Regions from separate parts of the Homo sapiens genome. Here region 1 is linked to region 2. Evidence: fine-mapped expression QTL. A gene starts in region 2. The other region holds a variant in brackets. All regions are shown on one strand. Distances are from middle to middle.

The links. PIP is the estimated chance that this variant, and not a neighbour inherited with it, causes the effect.
Region 1: its variant is fine-mapped to the expression of MCOLN1 in spleen (GTEx, PIP 0.99).

Annotation. Positions count from the first base shown.
Region 1 is chr19:7,473,113-7,476,017 of GRCh38, forward strand. It overlaps a transcript of ARHGEF18 not described here. Among named protein-coding and RNA genes, the nearest start is that of PEX11G, 14 kb to the right of the region's middle. RefSeq lists a silencer at 43-92. The variant G/A (reference allele first, on the strand shown) is at 1,558.
Region 2 is chr19:7,520,957-7,523,861 of GRCh38, forward strand. It overlaps MCOLN1 (mucolipin TRP cation channel 1), which reads left to right and starts at 1,668. Exons shown (of 14, transcript NM_020533.3): 1 at 1,668-1,825. The coding sequence starts at 1,795. LOC105372261 (a long non-coding RNA gene) reads right to left here. Exons shown (of 3, transcript XR_936294.3): 2 at 1,886-2,206. It overlaps ZNF358 (zinc finger protein 358), which reads left to right. Exons shown (of 2, transcript NM_018083.5): 2 at 1-69. RefSeq lists a silencer at 1,702-1,831.

The DNA of each region.
Region 1 (2,905 bases), 48 kb before region 2:
ACTTCCTCCATCTGGGGTGAGAGGCAGCTTGGCCATGAGTATGAAATCATCATTTCCACCTGGTCTGAGTCCCGGTCCAGTGAGGCGAGGACCCTGCTGTTTCAACAGAGGGTTTCCCATCACAAGGGGACTAGGTGTAAAGTCGATCACTAGCTCACTAGGAAGCGCAAAAAGGGAACTCTCAGGCAGCACTGTCCACCAGGAAGATGATGCAGGCCACGTGTGGAATTTTTCATTTTTAGTAGCCATATTAAAAAAGTAAAAGGAGGGCCGGGCACAGTGGCTCATCCCTGTAATCCCAGCATTTTGGGGAGGCGGGGGCTGAGGCAGGAGGATAGCTTGAGCCCAGGAGTTCAAGACCAGCCTGGGCAACATAGTGAAACCCCTTCACAGAAAAATTAAAAAATTAGCCAGGTTGGCCGGGCGCAGTGGCTCACGCGTGTAATCCCAGCACTTTGGGAAGCCAAGGTGGGCAGATTACGAGGTCAGGAGATCGAGACCATCCTGGCTAACAAGGTGAAACCCCGTCTCAACTAAAAATACAGAAATTAGCCGGGCGTGGTGGCGGGCGCCTGTAGTCCCAGCTACTCGGGAGGCTGAAGCAGGAGAATGGCGTGAACCCAGGAGGCGGAGCTTGCGGTGAGCCGAGATTGCGCCACTGCACTCAGCCTAGGCAATAGAGCGAGACTCCGTCTCAAAAAAAAAAAAAAAAAAAAAAAAATTAGCCAGGTATGGTGGCGTGCACCTGTAATCCCAGCTACACAGGAGGCCAAGGCAGGAGGATTGCTTGAGCCTAGGGGTTCAAAGTTGCAGTGAGCTATGATCGTGCCACTGCACTCCAGCCTAGGCAACATGGTGAGACCCTGTCTATAAGAGCTTAAAAAAAAAAAAGGAAATTTGGGGGATAGAAAAAAGAAATGAAATTTAAAAAAAAAAGAAAAAAGGGCTGGACGCAGTGGCTCACGCCTGTAATCCCAGCACTTTGGGAGGCCGAGGCAGGCAGATCACCTGAGGTCCGGAGTTTGAGACCAGCCTGGCCAACATGTTGAAACCCCATCTCTACTAAAAACACAAAAATCAGCCGGGCGTGGTGGCAAACACCTGTAATTCCAGCTACTCTGGGGGCTGAGGCAAGAGAAGCGGTTGAACCCGGAGGCGGAGGTTGCAGTGAGCCGAGACTGCACGATTGCACTCCAGCCTGGGGGACAACAGTGAGACTTCGTCTCAAAAAAAAAAGAAAAAAAGGATGTAATTAATTTATTACATTTTTATTTATTTTTTTGACATGGAGTCTTGCTCTGTCACCCAGGCTGGAGTGCAGTGGCACGCTATCTTGACTCACTGCAACCGCCGCCTCCCAGGTTCAAGTAATTATCCTGCCTCAGCCTCCCGAGTAGCTGGGATTACAGGCACCCACCATCATGCCCGGCTAATTTTTGCATTTTTGTAGAGATGGGGTTTCACCATGTTGACCAGGCTGGTCTTGAACTCCTAATCTCAGGTGATCTGCCTGTCTCGGCCTCCCAAAGTGCTGGGATTACAGGCGTGAGCCACCGC[G/A]CCTGGTCTATTTTTTCTTCATTGTGGTCAAATGCACACAACATAAAACTGGCCAGTTGCTATTCTCCTGATGGTGGGCATTGGAGTGTGTGTGTGTGTGTGTGTGTGTGTGTGTCTCCCCCCACCCTCTGATTTGCTCCACCCCAACCCCAGCCGTCCTCTGACCTCTGCCTAGCTGACCCCTCCACTGGGATGCCCCCAGCCTTCCTCAGCACTCCTTATGGGCCCTGGGGGGCTTGGAGGCACCCTAAAATGAGATGTTCTGCAAAGAGGGCCTGTAGTGGCTGGGCACGGTGGCCCACGCCTATAATCCCAGCACTTTGGGAGGCCGAAGTGGGTGAATCACTTGAGCACAGGAGTTCAAGACCAGCCTGGGCAACGTGGTGAAACCCCGTTTCTACTAAAAATACAAAATTAGCCAGGCATGCTTGGGCGTGCCTGTAGTCCCAGCTACTCGGGAGGCTGAGGCAGAGAATTGCTTGAACCCAGGAGGCGGAGGTTGCAGTGAGCCGAGATCGCGCCACCGCACTCCAGCCTAGGCGACAGAGTGACTCTGTCTCAAAAAAGAGGGCCCGTAGTCTTTAAGGTTCACAAAGGGGTCTGTTCCCAGCCCCTAAAAGGTTGAAAACCACTGGACCAGAATGGGCAACCCAGGGACAGAGTAGTGGTCACCAAGCCTGGGGGCTGCGGGTGGGTAACAGCTGAGGGGTGTGAGGTTTCTCTCTGGGGTGATGGAATGTTCTAAGGTTGACTGTGGCTCTGCTTGCACGACTGTGAATGTACTAAAAGCCACTGAACTGTCCCCCTTCTGTGGATAAATTTTATATGTGAATTATATTTCCATAAAACTGTTTAAACACACACACACACACACAACCACACACACACACAACCACTGGACCAGCTGAGAGAGTGGGAGAGCGGCCTCCCTTTCTGGAAGCATCCAACCTGTCTGCTCTGTGCCTGGGCTCCACATGGTCAGTGTCCAAGGCCTTCCCAGCCCAGGCTGTATCCCTGAAGGTGGCTTGCTTTTCCTCCTGGCACCTGTGACCAGGTGGTCATGTGGCTTCCCCACACAGAGGCGCTGCTCCAAGGGCCCCACTGGTATGAGCTAGTAAGTAGTTGGGTCTCCAGGTAGACAATGAGATGCCCTAATCATGCAGGTGCTGCTAGGGGCTGGGAAGGAGGCCTCTGCTGAGGGCCAGGACAGGCCTGCACCCCCGACAAGGGAAAGAAGGGGGAAACCCACCAAGCCTGGCCCACTCGTGAGTCCTGGGCAGAAGGAGCCCCCACAGATGGGGTCTCCCGCACCCGTGTGACCCTGAGCAGTCCCCGGCCTCCCAGCTGC
Region 2 (2,905 bases):
GCCGGCATCCTCGGGGGCCTGGGGAAGTTGTGTGTTGTGCAGTCAGTAAAATCCTCCCACTGCCTCCGGGCTCTGTGTCGTGGCTTGCCTTTTGTGCTTTCTTTCTGAGCACAGCCCCTTGCTCCGGAGATGGGACATTGTGGCCAGGGCCAGCCACAATCTGGAGCTCCAGTGTCCTGGCTTCCTTCTTGGGCCCACCAGCTAGACTTTCCAGCTTAACCCACAGTGTCTCATCCTGGTCCATCCCACTAGTCACCACTCTCTGTTCCTCTCACTTACCCCTTGCTCTTCAAAGCCCATACAGTAGGTATACAAGTGGACAAAAAAAGTTGCTCATTTATGCAATCAACAAACATCTCTGGATTGCTGGGGTCTCAGCAGGGAACAAGATAAATATGGCCTCGACCTGCATGGAGCTCATAGATACTAAATTCAGAATACTTAAAAAATAATTACGGGGTATAGTACATTCTAGGAGAAGCATAACAAGACTTCTGATATAAATGGCAGGCAGCTTTCTCAATGAAGGATTTTGTAATCCCAATAATCACTAATTTAATAATCAGTACTGTTTGCCCAGCCTTATGCGATAGTTTTTGCATTCTCTCATTTAATCCTCTCAACAGCCCCAGTAGGTAGATGACTTTGAATATCCCCATTTTGCAAATGAGAAAATTGAGGCACATTTTTTTTTTTTTTTTTAGACAGTCTTGCTCTGTTGCCCAGGCTGGAGTGCAGTGGTGTGATCATAGCTCACTGCAGCCTCGACCTCCTGGGCTCAAGCGATCCTCCCACCTTAGCCTCCCGAGTAGCTGGGATTGCCGGTGCATGCCACCGCCCACTGCGCTCAGCTTGGAGTTGAAGGGACTCTGGAAGATGTAGAAGTGGCATTGTCAGTGCCTAGATTTAAATCCCAATTGCCCTCCAGGGTCCAAATTCTTAACCATTACGCTCCAGGGCAAAAGTATGCAAAGGCTCTGGGGCTATAGAAAGATGAGCTTTGGATGGAGGTAGGAGCCAGATCAGAGGGCCCTGATAGACGAGAGTGGGGACTCTGCCTGTCATTACAGAGCAATGGGAAGCCGAGGGCAGGTTCTCGCAGGAAGGATAGGAATTATTCTTTGAAGATGCTTGTGGCTGCTGGGTAGAGAGTGGAGTGGAGGGAGGCTGAGATCGGGGAGGAGGTTGCTGCAAAGATCCAGGCCAGGAATGTTGGAAGACTCTGGGCTGGGGGCCATGGGGTGGGGATAAGTGGTTCTATTTGATACATAATTAGGAAATCGTGTTTGCTGAAGATGCGCAGGAGAAGGGTAAAAGGAGTTTCTGGGAGAAAGAGGAAGACAGCGTTGAGATAGTAGGCAGGGTCATCACCAGGCACCAAGGAGGATAAGGGGTCAAGCTCTGGACATGGAAGTCACAAGCCTGGCACCGGATTCGGGGCATGGCCGGGAGCCAGGGCAGAGCTCGTCGTTGCCAAACTCAGAGTCAGCCCATCCCCCGCCACCCAGAGCGCGTCGGCGCTAGGACCTAGCGACTGCCTTCGACCCAGAGGGCGCCGGCAGAGGCACGCATGCGCGCTGTTCCGGCAGGGGTTGTCGTGGCGCAGGGGGCGGGACCAGAGGCGGTCACGTGAGGGGCTCTGGGCTACCGGGTCACGTGACCGAGGCACAGATCAGCTGATGCCGGAGGGTTTGAAGCCGCGCCGCGAGGGAGCGAGGTCGCAGTGACAGCGGCGGGCGATCGGACCCAGGCTGCCCCGCCGTACCCGCCTGCGTCCCGCGCTCCCGCCCCAGCATGACAGCCCCGGCGGGTCCGCGCGGCTCAGGTGAGGGCGCGGGCGGCACCGTGGGGCCCCGAACTCAGGCGGGCGGGCTGTGTCTCCCACCTGGGGCGGCGGAGCTCCTAGTCTCTTTTTTTCTAAGCTCCAGCGCTGACTTTTCACGGTGGAGAAAAGGGCAGACGGCTCCTAGAACTTGGGCGGCGGGTGGGCACCAGCCTCTCCAATTCTTCCTCCTGAACCCAGGCTCTGCTGGGTTCCCAAACTCAGGCAGGGATCGCGCCGGGCCGCCAGCTTCTCCCTCTGGGGCGGCGAGGTTCCTGGGATTCCCACTGGGAGCCTAGGTTCCGATTGCTCAACTTCGTCTGGAACTCAGACAGCGGGCACCAGCTTCTCCAACCCGCACGTGAGACTCCCAGGCTTCCCCTCCTGATTCCAGGGGACAAATGCTCAGCTTCCCTAAGCTCAAGCCTGGAGAGCTGGAGGGATTGCCCCCAGGCGATTAACTCAGTTTTAGCTTTCCAAACCGCTGGAAGCGCAGCCTTCTTAAATTCGGGCTTCTAGCCAATTCTGATGCCACCCCTCCTCGGGGAGGCTGGAGGAAGACCCCTTGTGTTAGCTTCCCCTTCTGGAGCTAGCTGGGGACCCCTACCTGATAGATGTCCCGGTGTCCCAGCTAGTAGGGTCTGGGGTGGGTTAGCTGTAATCTCAGCTCTGTAAGCGGGCCCTGCCCTCTGGCTTTGTCGTAAACAGCCACAGCAGCATCTCATTGCAAAGGGAGGGGCCGGGAACTTGTCCCTCTCTGCAAGGGAGGTTCTGACAGTGCACACATTTATCCTGACTGCTTTGCTAGGCAGGAGGCCAGGCCCTAGAAAGCAGCACGGGGCCAGGCCCTAGAAAGCACATCCCCATGGGGGTGTGACAGGGACAGTTTTGGGCTACTGTGACTGGTTTTGACTCCAGCAGTTGCTGAAAGCTTAGATCTAACCATTAGGCTGGAAAAAAATAAACAGTGATTAGAACAGCTTGTGTTTGCTGAAGAGGTCTTTATCTGCTGTGTCTCACTGAATTCTCAGAGCAGCTTCAGGATCTCAACCTCAAGGCTCAGGGAGAGGGTGGACTTTTTTT